3 separate regions of the Homo sapiens genome follow, and regions 1 and 2 are each linked to region 3. Evidence: fine-mapped expression QTL. A gene starts in region 3. Each other region holds a variant in brackets. All regions are shown on one strand. Distances are between the middles of the regions.

What was found. PIP is the estimated chance that this variant, and not a neighbour inherited with it, causes the effect.
Region 1: its variant is the best candidate, but not a certain one, in a credible set for the expression of DSTN in whole blood (TOPMed, PIP 0.70).
Region 2: its variant is the best candidate, but not a certain one, in a credible set for the expression of DSTN in B cells (Fairfax 2012, PIP 0.69).

The regions. Positions count from the first base shown.
Region 1 is chr20:17,607,488-17,613,926 of GRCh38, reverse strand. It overlaps DSTN (destrin, actin depolymerizing factor), which reads right to left. Exons shown (of 4, transcript NM_006870.4): 4 at 4,008-6,439. RRBP1 (ribosome binding protein 1) reads left to right here. Exons shown (of 25, transcript NM_001365613.2): 25 at 1-248. Among named protein-coding and RNA genes, the nearest start is that of DSTN, 41 kb to the right of the region's middle. RefSeq lists enhancers at 1-13, 1,462-2,185. The variant CT/T (reference allele first, on the strand shown) is at 3,070.
Region 2 is chr20:17,673,547-17,679,985 of GRCh38, reverse strand. The region is part of intron 2 of RRBP1 (ribosome binding protein 1); the gene reads left to right. Among named protein-coding and RNA genes, the nearest start is that of RRBP1, 5.5 kb to the left of the region's middle. RefSeq lists an enhancer at 1-450. The variant TC/C (reference allele first, on the strand shown) is at 2,917.
Region 3 is chr20:17,566,533-17,572,971 of GRCh38, reverse strand. It overlaps DSTN (destrin, actin depolymerizing factor), which reads right to left and starts at 2,897. Exons shown (of 4, transcript NM_006870.4): 1 at 2,761-2,897. The coding sequence starts at 2,763. It also overlaps a transcript of BFSP1 not described here. RefSeq lists silencers at 2,457-2,746, 2,767-2,956 and an enhancer at 3,367-3,934.

The sequences.
Region 1 (6,439 bases), 41 kb before region 3:
CCCTGGTTGACTCTGACAGCCCCGTGGGTGTGTGGGAGGCCGGGCGCTCTGGGGTCTGTCTGTCAGTGCAATCGTTTAGTGTTTTTTCAGTGGGGCGGGGCGGGAAGCGGGTGGGACCGGGCAGCCAGTTCTCAAAGGCTGTGGGGCCGACTGGAGGCCACAGCCCCTCACCCCTAGACGTTGCCAACCAGAACTGACGTGTGACCTCCTGGGTGTTGATGCCATTAAAACCAACGTTGGTGCCCGGTGCTGCGGTCTCGTCTGGTCTTCTGCTGGGGCTCCCCCACCCGCTGTTGGGCCCAAGATGAAGAACCAAGGGGTGGGGGCGCACTCGGGAAGAGAGTAAGCGTGGGCCTCAGCTGCTTTGAAGGCAGAGGCTCTGCAGCTCCGCGTAGCGTGGGGTGGGGCTGAGACTCGCTGCTTCCGGGGCCCCCAGCAGTTTTCCTTGTCACCTCCCAGACCTCAGTGCCCTCCGGGCAGGATAAGGGAGCAGGGCCTGCGACACCTGAGAGCCAGATACATTTACTGCTGCCCCGCATCCCGGAGGGGCTGAGGTTTGTGAGCGCGGCTGGTGGCCCGGGCTGTTGCGTGATGGAGGTCCGGGAATGAACAAGGGGTCTCTGTCCTGGCTGGGGCTTAGACACCCACACCCCAGGAGGGTGGGCCAGGGCTGGAGCAGCCCACTGCCTGCCCTCGGGAGGTGGAGTTTCACCTGCAGAAACCAGCTTAGGTTTGCCACGACCCTCAGACCCAGTGTCCTCAGCGGCCCCTGACAGCATGGTCTTTGGCCCCAAGAAGTGTGTCCCTTTGAGTGTAAACAATAGGAACCTGGAGCTTAGTCCACAAAGACGTTCAGAGGCTCAGAGTCACAGTAGGGCCCCAACCAAGCCCGGAATGGAAGGCGGGTCTGCCTTGACCAAGGACTGTTCACTTTAATCTCCCTGCCAAGCCTCGGAATCTTGGGAGAGGGTCTGCTTGGCCGAACTTGGCTGGGGGACAACTGGGCTCTTGGATGGCAGGTCCTCCAGGACGACATTGTGAGAAGGGTTCTGTCAGGGACAGTGGCAGCAAGAACCGGGGTCTCCACAGGCCTATGAGCTTGGCAGGTGGCCTGCTCTGGGATCTCTGTCGTGCATGGCCCCTTCAGGTGGTGGCAGTGACTCGGATGGTTTTCACAACCTCAAGACCAAGGGAAGCCCCGCGGTGTGCGTCTGTGTGCCTCCCTTCCTCAGCCCCCCACACGGCCTCTGCCTGCAGCCTTGAACTGCTTAGCCTCAAACTGCTCGGCCCAGACCTTATGTCAGTTCTCAGGAAGTGCCTGTGGGCCACCCAGCTATGGTATGTGGCACTGTGCGTCATGGCTGTTCTGGGTGCTGGGAGTCCTAGGAAGGCCCCTGGAGAAGTGGGCTTAAGCTGAGCTCCCAGGAAGAGCAGATGTGTGTGAGGTGAGGGAGGCTGGCACTCAGGCAGCAGCAGCGTAGAGGCGTGGAGGGCGGGGTGAGGCACGGCCTGTTGTGGAGCCAGGTTACCAAGACTGGGGGGCCCTGGACTGGGGAGGCAGTACAGCCACTGAGGTTTCTGAGCAGGGAGAGCCAAGCCTGCCTGTTTTAGAATTCTCTAGAGGAGGCTGAAGCAGAAAGGGATCCCACGGTCTTGGGACATTGACATCCTGGCTTCTGGCTGGGAGACTGAGTAGCAGGAAGTGCCCACAAGGACACCTGATGGCTGCCCGTTTCCCGCCCTGTGCCTGGCGCTCAGCGAGCCCTCGGTCCTCCCGGTGAGGTGCATCCTGCCCCATGGAAGTGAAGGTACCTCCCCGGGCTAAAGGCTGGGCAGGTTCAAACCCATCTCTCTGACACGTGGCTAGGCCCCGCAGCCTGGGAGGTCAGTGCTTGTGGGGCAGGGCTGGGCTCTGCAATGTGGGGAGCCTGGGGAAGAACACCCTGGGCTGAGCGCCCCGCAACAGCCACTGGGCCCCCTGCATCCGCGCCCCATGCATCTGGTACAGGGGGCTGAGTGGGAGCACAGGTTCTGGGTGAGGGAGGCCGCCTGCAGGAGGCAGAACTCTGCACGTGGGTGGCTGTAGGTCAGGTCAGTGGTGTGGGCCCCGGTGAGTGTGGGGAACGGACAGACCTGTGCCAGGGCTGCCACCGAATCGCCCCCTCGACCTGCCACACTGCGAGACTGAGCGCTCCATGCTGGGCTGATCCCCTCTGAAGGCACAGGAATGGGGCAGGGGTACCCATTTTGAGCAGCGGAAAGGGGAGACCTTGGGGAAAGAGACAAGGGATGCTGGGGTGCCACGCTGCCGCCTCTGGGTTGTGAGGGGCAGTGGCCTCCTCCTGGACTCTGGCTAAAAGCCTGCTCCTTCAGGCCACCTGCTGGGAGCCCCAGGTCTGTGCATGCAGAAGGGAGGAAGCCGAAGGCAGGTAGCACAGGGTGTAGGACTCCTGTGCGGCTGGCCTGGGAGTTCAGGAAAATGCCACTTGGGAGCTTTTCTCCTGCAGCTCGTTCTAAGGGCCCATCATCTGTTGTCCCCGCCTGCCCCAGCAGGGCCAGAGCAGTCCTCAGGCCCGGCAGTGGTACCTCCCAGGTGGGCAGAGGGAGCCTGAGTCTGCCAGGCCACCGGCTGGGCCCTGCCTCAGGTGGGCCGGGCCTCCTCAACTGTCCCAGGCCAGGTTCCATGTCAGGCTCCAGGGAAGCCAGCTGAGGCGCAGCCCTCGCAAACTTCCTGCGGAAGGGGCTAGCAGCACCCCCCCAGCCCCACAGCATTCCCCAGCGTGGCACAGGTCACTGGCCTGGCCATTCGCAGCCCTGTCCTGCAGCTGTAGCCGAGCTCAGGCAGCACCAGAGGACTGGCTTGTGCTGTTCTTGGAATGAAGTTCACCGTGGAGGCAGGACTCACCCAGCTGCTGCCCGACAGAGGAACCACTGCTCCTCCCTGGCCCAGCTTCACAAAGCCAGACCCTGGGTTTGGGCCGCTGGGTGAAGATGGATCAGAGCCCACAGAGTAGATGTGAAGTTCCAGGTTAACATGGCCCATAGACAGCACAACAAGACCTGAAGCCC[CT/T]CACAGACAGCTGCGCCCTGACCAGCTTCCTCAGGTGTCTCCATGTGATATTCTGGAACACACAGGCACCACGATGCTGCGCCTGCAGGCCACACCTACGGAAGCGGTGCAGTGAAGGCAGGAAGCCAGCGAGGCCTGAGGGACAGGTGCGGGGAAAGCGAGGTTTTGTTCTAGAAGCCACTCCACGCCCTCCACAGATGCCATCACTACACTTCCTTCAGGGCTGGGTCTGATGAGAGCTCAGAGTGCAAAAGAAATGCTTTCCTTCTTGGCCCTTTCAAATCTCACCCCAGCACTGAACAAGGTCTAACCTTTGAATTTCAGATGTTAGAAATGTGGAAAGATGATCCAATTATAATAAGAGGAATGAAGTGAATTCTCCTGAGGTGGTGGAAATAGCTCAGGAACAGAAACCAAGAGATCTGAGTTTTTGTCCCAGTTCTGCCACTTGTGAGTCGATTAACCTTAGGCAAGTTAATTCACCTCTGGGCTGGTTACTGAGGGTACTGGCCAGAGGCTCCATAAGTCCCTTCCCCAGTGCCCTTTTGGGACTGTGCAGAACCCAGAGAGCCCTCAGTAACAAAACGGTACTCAAGCCTGCCTTCCACTGAAACCCTGGCTCCTGGAATACTCCCCTCACCAGCCATAATGCCATTACTGTCCCTTCCAGCTGCAGTCCAGCTGGAACCCAGTCTAGAGCCCGTTCTCAATTTCAGAAATGCCCCAAATCACGAAGAAGTGATGCGTGTTGGGCATATTCAGTCTCTGGTGGTCCGAAGGGCAATTATAGTCAAGAAACAAGTTGCACTTGCTGTGCCTGCGGCAGCCGGTACTCTGCAGAAAGGAAACCACCAAACCAAACCTATTATCCAAGTCACTGTGTCCACTGTTTTTGCAGAGTAATATTATCTGAGATAACTTCACAGTCAAGCTCTGATTGAATTGTTAGCAATGGCTTTATTTGCTGCTTTGTCAGGGCAAGAGAGTAACCGCTAGATGAGACTAAGTCAGCTTTCCACAAACATATTTTTGCAGTGTGTTAGCATTTGTGAAGAGGTAAACGTATTTTCTGGAAACAGAGTATACTTGCAGTTTTGTTCCTGACCAACAGTAGACCAATCAGCTGAGGTCTGAACCCTAATTATGTACCAGAATCGCCTTGAGTGCTTGTTAGCACAATTCTTGGGCCTCAGGAATCCACTGAGACTTTCTCAAAAGTTCCCCTAGAGACTAACTACTAGCATTTTATTCAATTTCTGGAGTGAGTTCTGGATGCTTACATCACATCCCTTTGTACTGTTTGAAATCCTTCCCACAGAAGACACCTCACACACGCACAACAGTGCCACACTTAAGCCAACACCACAGGAAAAATCTCCTTCTAAAACTCCTTGACCAAATATCTTGCTTTACCTACATGGCTGACTTTTGAGTACGGCAGTCTTGGGCTTATGGCACTTCCCTGGAGGCCTGTTAATCACAATCACTAGCAGGACACAGTGGCTCACACCTGTAATCACAGCACTTTAGGAGGCCAAGGCAGGAGGCTTGCTGGAGCCCAAGAGTTCAAGGATGCAGTGAGTTATGATTGCACCACTGCACTCTAGCCTGGGGGAAAGAGTGAGACCCTGTCTCAAAAAACAAAACCCACACTAAAAGCATTGCTACAAAGTAAAGAAACAAGCAATTCAGGATGAATGACAAGCAGCCAGCACTATTTTCTAGACAATTCCAAAATATTTTGATTAAAGCATAATCTTGTCTCACAAACACCTGGCATGTGGATCAACATTAAAATGTTCCCCACCCTAGACTGCACTTAAACCTAGTGGCATAGCCTACTACACACCTAGGCTGTATGGTAGAGCCTATTACTCCTAGACCACAAACCTGGACAGCACGTTACTATACTGAATACTGTCGGCAACTGTAACACAATGGTATTTGTGTATCTAATTACAGTAGAAAATACATTATAATTGTATGGGACCACCATAGTATATGCAGTCTTTGACATGTAATAATGCACAGCTGTGTATCAAAATGCTAACCATGTGATGGCATGTGGTAGGACAATGTATAATTTCCCTTTTCTCTATTTTCTAAATTTTAAATGTGAATTTATAATTTTGTATAATATTTATTACACTTATAGTGTAATAAACATTGAAAACGTTCCCAACTTTTACACCAACTTTCTTATTCACCAGAGGGAGTTGTGACTTTTTTTTTTTTTTTTGAGACAAGGTCTTGCTCTGTCATCCAGGCTGGAGTACAGTGGCACGATCTCAGCTCACCTCCTGGGCTCAAGTGATCCTCCCACCTCAGCATCCAAAGTAGCTGGGACTACTGACGTGCACCACCACACCCGGCTAATTTTGTTTATTTTTAGTAGATGAGATCCCACTATGTTGCCCACGCTGATTGTCAAACTCCTGGCCTCAAACTATCCTCTTGCCTCGGCCTCCCAAAATGCTGGGATTACAGGAGTGAGCCACCACACTCAGCCAACCTTAACTCTTAATTATTGGAAATACCCAAACCTCAATGCCTTACCCCATATGGAAGGCAAAATCCTGTATTCCCAATTCACACATGAAAATTACACGAGAGGTAAGTCAAAAATGCTTCCTTTATTACATAAAGCCAATACTGCTACTTCTAAGTTCAACTGTTTGTGCATCTCTATATCGTTCAAAGTGTTACGCCCGTGATATTAACAATGACCGCTTCCAAGTGTCAGTGAACAGTGGCTCCCTGTGAGTGTCATCATGGTACCTCTCCCCATTGCACACAAGTCAACAAACTGCTCTAGAAAGTTAAGTTCTCCCAGGCCCAGAGTAAACATATACTCAATATTCTTCCATACTTTATTATACCATAAGAAGCAAACTTCTGAAGGAGATACAATTAAAGATACCACAGGTGTCCTAGCTTGTCAATATTCTGTTTTATCATTTTCATTAACAAAGCAGATTACAATGTAGCCCTAATTTGCATTATAATTAGTTGTTACAAGACACTGCACATTCTCCTGAAGACACACAATGATTTCCAAGATGCCAGGTCACTCTTCCAATCAGTGAATGGCGAGCTCACTGGCAGGTGCAGGGCTACTTCCTGTATTCCAATGATGTGCCTGAAATAGCGCTTTGCAAGATGAGCGTGGATTATGTGGACACAATTTTGAGGCAATCTCCATTACACATTTGGTAGAAGACTGCCTAACTTAATCTTACTATTAGTGTATTAGTGTTGTTATATTATGAAGACATATTATATTCCATTATTCTGCTTAGCTCAAGGAAGAATAAAGAATTTGGACCAAAATTATAACCAGATTATGAGCAATTTCCTAAGCAAAAGAAA
Region 2 (6,439 bases), 110 kb before region 3:
TCCTTTTACATGGAGCACCGCAAAGCCGGCTTGCAGGGATCTTGGGCCAGTGGAGGCCTGGAGGAGGCTAAGGTTGGGGGAGGGGAAACCAGAAAGGGATCTTGGGGTTTAGGAGAGGGTTTAGAGCTCTAGGCACTATAACAACTCTCACCTTTCATACTTAGGAATCTGCCTCTGAACATTTACAGAGAGATTAAGAAGTTACAGTGGTTCATGGTATATGAGTATTTTTTGGTGATGGAAGAGTTTTAAATAAATCTTAAATCAAGTCACATTTGAGCAATTATGCTCTTTAATGAAATGAGCCCTAACTCAACAGGCTGCAATAATTACATAGCAGCAAACTCAGTTTAAATGGTTGAATGCCAGTGATTGAATTGGAGTATTGATTTATTATGTAGCAGGGACACCTTTTAAAAGTGTCGGGACCCCAGACTCTTCTTGTCTTTTTAGCCCTGGGAATTTTAACTAATAGATGAATGACACATAGAGGATCAACAGTTCTGTTGAGACAGCAAGTTTTTCTTTGCTAAAATCTTGTTTCAGGAGAAACAAAAATAATGGTCAAGTCAGAATGATGAAGGCAGGGACTGTGCTGTCCGTCTGTGCATGCTGGGCCTGCAGTGGTTAAGGCCTGGCCTATAACATCATAAATATTGGTTATACCAGGCGGACAGCGCCCCCATACCTGTTAAACTATTCCCAGCTGTCTCATTGGATAAATGAAGCTTAGCCCAACTTGGTTTTTAAGGTTCACTTTTTAGAATCAGATTCCACAACTGTGGTTTACATTTAGGCCTTAAAATAACCCTGTTCTAGGGGGTGGGAATGGTTGTCACCCATTCAGTGGATGAGAATGTGGAGGTCCAGCTGGTCAGAAGGTTGTCAGGCCAGTTCCTGTTGCCCAGTTGCTAGGCGATGTGGGCCCGGCCTTCCAAATGTTCCCTCCTGGCTATATACCTCCACCTTCCTGGGGCAATAATTACCCAAGGGAGGACACAGAACGTGAAGATCAAAATTAAGAGCTTCAGTGGCAGGAAGGTGGGGAGGCATTTTGAAAATCTGGCAGTGCTGAAGGTATTTTTCATTTCATTTTTTTCACCGAGGGTCTCCTGTGTGGTGGGCCTTCAAACACCGCAAGTGAGACCTAGTTCTTGCCTGAAAAAGCTACTGTCTAGAACTGTGTTGTCCAATACAGTAGCCACAAGTAGCAATTTAAGTTTAAAACAATTCAAATTAAGTAAAATTAAAAATTCAATTTCTGAGTCAAATTAGCCACATTTCAGGTGCTCAGTAGTCATAAGTTGGTCAGCGTGGCTGTAGATGGTTTCCACCATCACAGAAAGTTCTAGACAGTGCTGATGTAGAGGCAGCTGGTATTCTGTAAACATTCATGTCCCTGTTCCTCTTGATCATGTGGTAATATGTTGAACCACATGAAATTGCCCATTCTGTAGGTCAAAACCAGTTGACTAGTGGCAGTTGATACACTTCACCTGATAAGATCTCACCCTGAGAAAGCATTAGTCCCGCCTCTTTGTGTGCATTGTAAACTGCATTCCAAGAAAAAGGAGTGGGAGGGGGGCCACACAGATAGTGGCCCTTTCCTGGAGAGATTTTTTACCCAATGCCCTCAGCATCAAAATGGTGACTTGTAACAAAGACAGAAAATAAATTGATATTAGGTAGAAAGTGATGGCTTGTAAGGGAAGGTAAATATTTAATTTTAAGTGACAGTGCCTAGGCAAGGAGGCACTCTCACTTAGCATATAGAAAATTAGTTCAGGGGCCTCCTAGGAGACTTTTCTTAGGCAGACAAATTCTGGCCGAGTCTCCTGAAGCAGACAACCAGACACCCCCAAAACCAGACGTGTGTGTCCTTTATGTGCATTCAGTAACATGTGTCTTCCACCTGTCAACAATGGGCAGCAACTTTAACTTATCAAGAACATTTTGTGATTTCTAACTTAGATTTTTTTGGCAAGACTAGAATACCTGCCCAGTCCCGAAACCTTTTCAGTTCCAAAGTATTGGAGTTCCAGTGTTCTTGGGTGGCATAAATTGCTTCCTACACCAGTGACTATTTACACAGCTCTGTTATTCTCCATATAACTTTTTTTTCTTTTTCTTTTTTCTCTTTTTTTTTGAGACAAAGTTTCGCTCTTGTTGCCCAGGCTGGAGTCCAATGGCGTGATCTTGGTTTACTGCAACTTCTACCTCCCGGGTTCAAGTGATTCTTCTGCCTCAGCCTCCCAAGTAGCTGGGATTACAGGCATGCGCCACCACACCCGGCTAATTTTGTATTTTTAGTAGAGACGGGGTTTCACCATGTTAGTCAGGCTGGTCTAGAAGTCCTGACCTCAGGTGATCTGCCCTCCTCGGCCTCCCAAAGTGCTAGGATTATAGGCATGAGCCACCGTGCCCGGCCTCCATATAACTTCGAAAGGATCATTGGGCAGTACTGGGGAATAATTTTTGAATTCTTGGTTGTACTTGTGGGCTCATCTTAGTATTAGTACTCTGTAAAGAATAATATAAAACCAAAGTTTAACTTTAAAGGAAGAAGCTGAATGATGGACAGCTACTTGATCTCTTTCTGGTCAGAAAGGAGGCCCACTAAGACTACTGGAAGTTACAGACTATTTATAGTGATAATGAATATCATCTGCTGACTCAAAAGTTGGAATAAAAGACCATCTTGAATTCAAATCTTTAATTCTCTATCCTGGGCAAGGTATAAGCAAACAAGGTCTGTTAGGGTATAAGCAAACAAGGTCTGTTAGGCTGTCTTGAGAGGAATTCCAAACTGGTGCCCTGTGTGAGCTGAACTTGGCCTTCACATGGAATTTGTTTCACTGACCTCATGTTATTAAGCAATTGAGTCACCTTTTAAAAGTGGAATTTTTTTTTTTTTTT[TC/C]ACTAAAATCTAGATTTTTTGGGCTGGGCACAGTGGCTAATCCCTGTAATCCCAGCACTTTGGGAGGCCAAGGCGGGTGGATCGCTTGAGCCCAGGAGTTTGAGACCAGCCTGGGCAACATGGCAAAACCCCATCTCTATAAAGAATGCAAAAACTAGCCAGGCATGGTGGCATGTGCCTGTAGTCCTGGCTACTCAGGTGGCTGAAGCAGGAGAATCATTTGAACCTGGAAGGTGGAGGTTGCAGTGAGCCAAGATCATACTACACTCCAGCCTAGGCGACAGAGTGAGACTCTGTCTCATAATAAAAAACAAAAACAAAATCTAGATTTTTGGGTTCTCTGGGGGAAAATGGGAATTTCTGGCTACACTAGGTTGACTTTCTTGTGTGGCAGCCGTGGACTGTGTTTGTCCTCTCTAAGCTGGGCCTGTGCTCTCAGTGCCCAGCATCCTACCCCAATATATGTTATGTGCTTGGGTATTGGCAGTCCCTCAGGGTGCTGGGGGCTGTCCGGTGTGACCGGACTAGTCATCAGCTTGTCCCACGGAGCTGCTGTGTGGAGCAGTGGGAGAAGCACTGGTTGGGTGTTCTGATCCCTGGAGTGAGTGAGTGACTTTGGACATGACTTCTCCTCCCTGGGCTTCAGTTTTCTCCCTCCTATAAAATGAAACTAGGCCAGCTAGCTCCACCTTTCAGGCCACAAACCTCGGTTTATCCTTAACTCCTCGCCGTCTCATACCTGTACCCTGTACGCAGCAGGTCCCATCAGCTCTACCTTCCAGACAGAGCCAGTGTGACCATTCTCACCACTTCTGCCTTCTCCCTGGTCCAAACAGCTCTTACCTTTTGATTTTTTATTTCTGAGAGGGTCTTGTTCTATCACCCAGGCTGGAGTACAGTGGCGCAATCACTGCTCACTGCAGTTACAACATTGCAGGCTCAGTTAATCCTCCTGCCTCAGCCTCCTGGGTAGCTGGTACCACAAGTGCATGCTACCACACCCAGTGAATTTTTAGGTTTTTTTGTAGAAATGGTGTCTTGCCACGTTGCCCAGGCTAGTCTTGAACTCCTGGGCTAAAGGAGTCCTCCTGCCTTGGCCACCCAAAGTGCCAGGATTGTAGGCGTGAGCCAGCATGCCCAGCCTGCTCTCACCTCTGCCCCGGGTTATTTCTCTAGCCTCTGGTGGGCTCCCTGCCTTTGCCTATACCCCCTGCCTTCTAGTCTGTTGCCAGAGCAGACCATGTCACTCCTCTGTTCAAGACCCTCCTTGGTCAAGGTCTCCAGTGGCCTCTCAGGGCACTTTCGCTCTAGCTTCACTCCTACCATCTCCCTGTCCTCTGCTGCAGCCACGGTGGCCTCTGTTCCTCAGGCATGCTTCTGCCTCCGGGCCTTTGCGTCTACTTTGGCATATCCCTAAGAGCTTTTCCTTAGATGGCACATGGCTGGCTCCCTCATCTCCTTCAGGCCTGTTGGCTACCCTGTGTGGAGTGTCAGCCTCTGACGCTCTCCCACCCCCACTCCCTGCCCCCCTTCTCTGCATCACTTTCTCTTCATCACCCCCTGACATGTCCCGTATTTGACTGACTTTGTCATCTCCCCCTCTGAAGCGTAAGCTCTACCAGTGCAGGGATGTAGCTTTTGTTTCCTGAGGTATATCCAGTGTCGAGGGCAGTGACTAGCATGCAATAGGTGCCCATTCTTGCTGAGCTAATGGAGATGATTTTGTAGCACTGGCGTTCTGCGAGTATATCATGTAGCCTGAAGGAGTCTGGATTCCTAGAGCATCACATATAAACACAAAAACATATTCCAGAGCCAAATGCAAGTGAAGTTTGGATTACCTCCAGCCTGCCTCCAGTTGAGAAATTGACAGTCACATGCAGAGGGCACTGTTAAATGTGGACATCCTGCCCTTCCAGCGGAGGCTGGGGTTTGAAGTGAACCTTAGGAGACGATGTGGATGTTGGCTCTCTCCTGGGAGCCCTCAGTCTCCAGCCTGGTTAGATTCATCCCAGTGTCTCTGGGAGTCCATCATGCATGGCACCTTGACAGAACTGGGCCCTTCCCAGGTGCTTGCACCAGTTCTGGGGAGGAGACTTGGCTGTGAGCATCCTTTAATTCCTTGTATAACCAATGAGTGTGAGGTGGGCCTTGCAGAGTCACTGAGCATTTCAGTGACGACACACTCACCAGGAAACAGAACATTTGTTTTGGGTGTGAACAGTGTGCTGGCTGCTCTGAAAAGAGGTAGATTTTGTGTTTAGTGGGCAAGAATGTTCCTTAGGGGGAGAAGGGAGAATTCTTTTTTTTTGAGAGGGAGTCTCGCTCTGTCTCCCAGGCTGGAGTGCAGTGGTGCATCTCAGCTCACTGCAAGCTCTGCCCTCAGGTTCATGCCATTCTCCTGCCTCACCCTCCTGCTGGACTACAGGCGCCCACCACCAAGCCCAGCTATTTTTTTGTATTTTTTTTAGTAGAGACGGGGTTTCACCATGTTAGCCAGGATGGTCTCGATCTCCTGACCTCGTGATCCACCTGCCTCGGCCTCCCAAAGTGCTGGGATTACAGGCTTGAGCCACCGAGCCTGGCCGGGAGAATTCTTATAGTTGGCATTACATTTTGTTTTCTCTTGGTCAGTCCTCATCGTGCTAGGAAGTGAGGGAGGGGTCAAGGTTCCTCTCCTGCCTCACCTCATGGTGATGTTCTTTTCTCAGAGGAATTTTGTGTGGCAGTCCACTAAGTAGGAGGAGCAATGGCTGAGGCAGGGTGGTCTGGTTGGGAAGAGGCAATACTACGTCCAGCCCCATCCTTTGTTTCTCCTCTTCTCTCCTGTTGATTTTAGGTGAAGAAGAGTAGATACTAGATTTCTAGCCCTTTCTAACGGGAATGTCTGACCTACTCATTTTACTTGGAAAGGTGAAAGACCCTTGTTCAAACCCAGGTGGTGTGTTTTTTTGAAGTTCTCATTCAGTGATTAAAGTGTGCAACTCAACTGCATTAAATTGGTTTTTAATTAAGTCTGATCCTGAATAGGAATTAGATGTAGCTTTAGTTTTATGAATACATTTTTATTTCCTTGGTAGTTCTAGGTATTTGTAGTAATTAGAAAGGAAAGTCTTAATTTTCAGAATAGTAATCACAGTGATTGAGGGGAGGAAGGAGTCAATGCTGAAGAATAAATGAATTATTGAGACTCTTAATGAAAAAAGTCTTATTGGTAATGTGTCAAAGGACTCTTAAAAGGTCAACTTTAGCCACTGCTCTGAAGCTAAGTTAGTCTTTTCCATCTTAAGTCATATCCCTCTTAAGTTGGAAGATCTGGAGACTTATTCTGTACAGTTTGATTTTAAAAAGACTGCAGGTGGGCCGGGCATGGTGGCTCAGCCTGTAGTCCCAGCACTTTGGGAGGCTAAGGCGGGCAGATCACCTGAGGTCAGGAGGTCGAGACCAGCCTGGCCAACATGGTGAAACCCTGTCTCTACTAAAAATACAAAAACTAGCTGGACATGGTGGCACATGCCTGTA
Region 3 (6,439 bases):
TATGTCTTTGACACAGGAATGGTTATAACTCTAGGGAGGGAAGGGAGTGGGATGAGGAAGATGATGCATATTTAGCTGTAATGATAACATAAAAACCTGAAATATGGCAATAAGATAGCCCTGTTTTTCCTGTACAAAAGGATCTGTTATTCTGTGTACTTTTCTGCTTAAAATGTTTCAAAATTATTATTTTAAAACTTGGAGTTGGAAAAGGTGATTTGTCTCAAGTCAATTAATCCTTTACAATCTGTTTTCTCATATGTTAAATAGGCATGTGAATACATGCCCAACCTATTTCACTGGGTTGTAGTGTTTTTGCTAATCACCAAGTATTAGAATACTTGAATACTGCGCCAATTAGTTCAGTCTGTGAGACCACAGTCCAGATTAGGATAAGGTTAAGGGTTAGATTATCGTGCAAACCTTTTAACTCTACTTCAGGGGCAAGACTACACTCTTACTTTCCAAGAAGCATAAAAGATACTCTGGTTACAAGAGGAGCTAGGCAAGTCTAGGTGTGATGTCTCAATCCATATCCAGTAGAACTACTGAGCAAATAACCTTAGTAACTTGATGATGGGCTACTAAACAATCTCTGTATAAGGAGGCTGGCACACCCAGTACACACACACACACGTTTTGTTTGGGGTCTGTAATTGTGGTTCACGTGGAGGCAGACGTTGTTTGTTTTTTGTTGGAGGAGACATCTGAAAACATCTAATCTCATCCTGAAGCGCCCAGCTGGTTTCAAACTGCTTTATTTCAGGTGCTTCTAAAAGACTTGGTGAGTACAAGGAAGTGATTCTGCTAATTTAGAACAAACCCATCGGTAGTTAAAATTTAATCTTAAAAGAAACTTGGAACCAAGCATCTAACCAAAAGAGCTAAAAGCAAAGTGCTAGACTCTGGGATAATACCCACAATATTCTCTAATCACTGAACTAAACAAAGATGCTCCTGCGCTCATAAGGCTAAAAACAAAAATAACCTTTAAAAATGGGGGGTCTATAATCTGAACTCTAAGAGTAACTTGTAAGGTCTTCTTGATCTCCCTAAAGCCAACAATTTTGAAGCGTATTTGGAAATCGCTCATTTCTAATTTTTATTTCTCCCACTCCTCACAAGAACCAGGAAATATAACAGACCCTTCCTTCCTTGAATTTAGTTAAGCTTTAACTAAAACTAAGCATTTAACTAAAGGTAAAATGTTTGGTCTCTTATTTTCAAACAGAAAAATAAAGTCTGTATTAGCCACTCAATAAAAAAGCATAATGTCAAATCAGAAGTCTCTAGAGCAGACCCTAGTCAGCTTCAAAGCACTTTCACAGAGTGAATGGTCTTAAGCGTACCATAACTCAAAGCCCCTAGATTAAGTCTTTCAGTATAAAGTAGCATATACATTTAAAATGTTATTAAATTTCTAATAATTAGATATTAAAAAGACTCAAGATGCTGATACTTTGTAGCTTACAGCATTAAACCAAAGAAGAACCAAAAACTGAACAGTATCAAATCCCTATTACATACATATCTACAGTCATCAAGAAACTACCGGTTTATCTTTTCTTTCACTAAGGGGCCGCCTGCATGTTCACGGAAGTTGTAGTAACTTAAGAAAACCAAAACTGTTATACAGTGAAAACAGTTTGTATGCAGATAAGCTGGTACCAACTGCTTCTAGACAGATGCAATTACAGTGTAATATTTCTAGCAAAGTCTGGTAAGGCTACGCCTGCAAATCACTGACCAAAAATGGTAACAGTGTGTGCACACTAACGAAAACGACAAAATGTTCCAACTGATAGTTCAGTTGAGAATACGTTTTTAAATAGCTAATTAGAGTGACAGTGTAAAGGGGGAAAATATGTAAATTAAGCAAAATGTCCATCATATAGAATATACTAATGAGCACCTGTTTACTTTCTGGTGACTCCAGTATTTTAATGGTTTTTAAAGCTCTTAAATTTGGTTGTATCAGCATCCCAGCATCATGCCCACACCTTGCGCACCAAGTTCTGGCAGAGTCCAACTGTCTACAGGTCAGAAAAAAAATTCTAACCATACACGGACAGATCGGGCAGGGAAGGGTTAAAACAGACACTGCCAAGCTTGACAAGCACGACGAGAGTGCTGCTGGAAGCCGATTGCCAGATAAAAAGAAAAAAACAAAGGAGCTGCAAGGCCACCCCGTTCTAAATCATGCCAGGATCCTGCTCGTTAGCGATCATTCCGTGCTCTAGGACTGTTCCATAAAGGCTTTATCTTCCTTATTGAGATGGACAGACCTCAAGGGCTGGAACGCGCACAAGTCACCAAGCGCCTCAGCGCCAGCTCTGGGGAAACCCACGCCAACAAGGACGGTGGCCGGATTCCGACGCCCCCCGCCCCCCACTCCCCGGCCTCGGTGTGCAGACCCCCGGATGGATTTCACAGAGCGGGTGGGGGCGCTCGACCCCAGCCAGTTGTTGCAAGGCCGGGTCTGGAGACACCCGCAGAGGCCACGCTCAGGGCGGCGGCCTCGCCCCAGCTGGGAGCTGCGCAACAGCCGCGGATCCACCCCGGGGCGCGGGGGCCCAGCCAGGACGGCGGGAGACGGAGGCCCAGAGACCCCCCCTCACCCGCAGCCCGGACACTGCAGCCGGACCGGGTCCCTCCCCGGGCTGAGGCACGGCTCACCCCCTTAGCCCCGACTCCGCGGCGCCCCAGAGACACACTGCTCCCGGCCGCCTCGGCCCACGCCTCGGCCTCCCTCCTACTCACCATCTTCGCCGCGGCGGTCGCAGGGACGCGGGGGAGGGAGCCGGCGGGCAGCGAGTATGCAGACCGTCCTCCTCACGGCTGCGGGACCGAGAGACCCAGCGCTGAGCTGACGCGGCGGCGCGAGCTTACCCCGGGGCGGGCGCGCCTCAGGACGGAACGCGGCTGCGCACGTCACGCACCGCCTGCCGTTGCTACGCAACCAGCCGGCCAGGCAACGCCCCCCCGGCGGCTATCCAGAGTCTCGGAGGGGAGCTTCCCTCATCTGCTGAAGGCTGCGGGGCAGGGTCCGCCTCACCAGAAAGTGTTTAGGGGTGGGGGTGCGTCCTCTCTGGTCTGCAGGAGGCTAGAAGGCGGACTGGGCTGGCTCCTGCTGGCGAGGGGCGGGCAAAAGATGATGGGGGAGGGGTGGCCTTCCTTCGCCTCCTCGGCGGGGCCACCTGACGCCCCACCCACTGTGCAGGCATGGCCCGCGCGGGGAGGCAGCCACCTGGCCAGGTGTGCCTGCCGCTGGGGCGGGGCGAGGCCGTGGAGGGGAAAAGGAGGGGAGAGCCGGGGGAGAGGGGTACAGAGTGTGGGAAGGAGGGGGATTTGGAGGGGAGAGGCGAGGGGCACATAGTTGGGGGAGGAGGAGGATGGAGAGGGGAGGGAAGAGGTGAGGGAGAGGGGACAGTGTGGGGAGAGGAGGGGGATGTGGGGGGAGGGGCGAGGGGGCACTTAGTGGGGGAGGTGGGGGCAAGGGGAGAGGTGAGGGAGAGGGACACAGTGGTGGAAGGAGAGAGATGTTGGGGGTTGGGAGGGCAGGGCCCGAGGAGGGGGAACGCACTGGGGGAGGACCCACGGGAGCGGAGTCGCGGGCCGCGGCAGCGGGGACGCCTCCCGCATTTTTTACCTACTTTGGTGCGATTCCCGCCGCCCTCCCCTGATTGGCCCAGTCTGGCTTGTCCTGCCCTCGCGTGAGGGGAAAAAAGTCTGCACATTTTTCCTCCTTCCCGAGGCGACCGTGGCCATGCAGAGTGCTCTGTGAGTCACCGTTAATTTCAGGTCTGGAAAAACAAGGAGCATTTATTTATCTTTGGGAACTGCCGGGGAAGGAGGCCGGCGGCGCGCAGGGGTGTGGCTGGGAAAGGCCGCGCTGTCCCGGGACGGTGGCGCCAGCCCCGCCGCTCAGTTCTCCGGGTTTTTAATTTGGAATTGTGTTTTTCTAATGGGCGGTTGCGTCGGAAACACGGTTTTCAGAGGGCCCAGATGAATCCCAGCGTTTTTGCTGCGGGTGTTTTTGTGGGAAATAAAGGGAACAAAGAATTTTATAAATTAATTTAGGTTACCGAGAACATCATGGCCTCGACCAAAACTATTTTAATTCTCCAAATATGAGACTTTTGGACAAGATGGTCAGTATTTTTTTTTCCGGCACTACGTAAAATCTAGGTTGTATGTGGCTTTTGTTCTGCCCCACTCAACATAGGAACCCATTTCTCATTACCCTCGTTCTTTTTAAAAAAGACAGTAAGTTGTGCAGTTCTAAGCCTTTACCACCTGAGACATGATTTTTGGCGGGCTAGAGCAGTGGTTCTTTAGCATGCATCAGAATCACCTGGAAAAGTTGTTCAAAGCTAGATTTGTGTGCCCCATCCCCAAGGTTCCCTCACTGCTTCTAAGATGATGCTTGAGAATGGGCATTTCTAACAACTCCTAGGTGATGCTGAAGATGCCAGTCCGAGACCACACTCCTGAACTGAGAAGGAACCCCCCTGTATCCTCCTGCAGCTGGAACCCTTTGCTTTTCTGCCTGCCTAGGACCCTGTGGCCCTTACACTTCTTAATATTCAGACTTCCTTTCTAGTCCAAAAGTGAATGGTGCTCATTTAAGGATACATGCCTGCCTGCTTGCTCCAGCCTCTCCTGCATTTCGTCCTCCACTCTGCCACCAGAGTTAGGTCCAAACATAAGACTGGTCTTGTTACATTCTTGCTTAAAATTTGCTGTGGCTTCCTCCATAACCCTCAGCAGGTCAGTCTGGCCCGTCTGCCTCTGGCCTCAGCCTACTTTTTCTGCCCTATCTCCCATATCTTCCTAAGTGCCCACTGCCCCTCCCAGACGAAACTTCTCATTCCAGAACACCTCTTACTAGTTCTAACTACCTTGATCATGGGCCTGCTTATTTTTTCAGCCTGGGATGTTCCTATCACCCTTCGCATCTGAAGACTTCTCTTACCACTTCCCAAGGATCAATAGTAGTTCCTTCTTTTTTTTTTTTTCGTGCCCCGTACCCCTTACAACTCCTTCACCCCCCTAGTTCCTTCTATAATCCCAGAGTTCATCACTTCTCAAATCTTTTTTTTTTTTTTTTGAGACTGAGTTTCACTCTTGTTGCCCAGACTGTAGTGCAATGGTGCGATCTCGGGTCACTGCAACCTCCGCCTCTCGGGTTCAAGCGATTCTCCTGCCTCAACCTCCCGAGTAGCTGGGATTACAGGCATGCGCCACCACACCCGGCTAATTTTGTATTTTTAGTAGAGATAAGGTTTCTCCGTGTTGGTCAGGCTGGTCTTGAACTCCCGACCTCAGGTGATCTGGCCACCTTGGCCTCCCAAAGTGCTGAGATTACAGGCCTTAGACACCGAGCGCCCGGCCACCTCTCAAATCTTAATAAAGATCCAAATCACCTGAGATCCTTGTTAAACTGCAGATTCCGGGGTTGAGGGGTGGAGTCTTAGATGGCCCCAGGAGATGCAGATGCTATACTTTGAGTTAGGAGGTTTCATGGTTTTTTCCCTACAATTACTGTAGCTCTGTAATTATTTATGTGCATTTTCCATTACTACCAGATAGCTGGGAGTTCCTTGAGGTCATGGGGTATTTAAGATGCGTATGTATGAACTGGCATAGCCCCTGATACATAGTAGGTGTTTAATAAGTATTGAATAAGTGAACCAGTATCTGAAGATGTTTTACAATTTATCAAACTTATATATCAGTTTATCATAACTTAAGATGAGCCCCCATTTTTTTTAGGTCCCACTGAACTTCAGCCTCTGCATTTAACACCCAGCTTTTCTAGACATTGACATTCCTCCTCTCCACACGGAGGGAAAGAGTTTTCATACAATGCTATAGACTAATAAAGATTTATGCCCTCCGGAAGCTGAAAGGTAATCCCCAATGTGATGGTATTTGAAGTTGGGGCCTTTGGACAGCGATTAGGCCATGAGAGCAGAGCCCCCTTTAATAGGATTAGTGCCCTTATAAAAGAGGTCCTAGGCCGGGCACCGTGGCTCACACCTGTAATCCCAGCACTTTAGGGGGCTGAGGCAGGTGGATCACGAGGTCAGGAGTTCAAGACCAGGCTGGCCAAGATGGTGAAACCCCGTCTCTACTAAAAATACAAAAATCAGCCAGGCGTGGTGGCAGGCACCTGTAATCTCAGCTATTCAGGAGGCTGAGGCAGGGAATTGCTTGAACCCAGGAGGCAGGGGCTGCAGTGAGCTGAGATCGTGCCACTGCACTCCATCCTGGGCAACAGAGCGAGACTGTGTCTCAAAAAAAAAGAGGTCCTAGACTACTGCTTGCCACTTCCACCATTGTGAGAACACAGCAAAAAGGTTCATCTATGAACCAGGAAGTGGGCTCTCACCAGACACTGAATCTGCTGGTGACTTGATCTTGGACTTCACAGCCT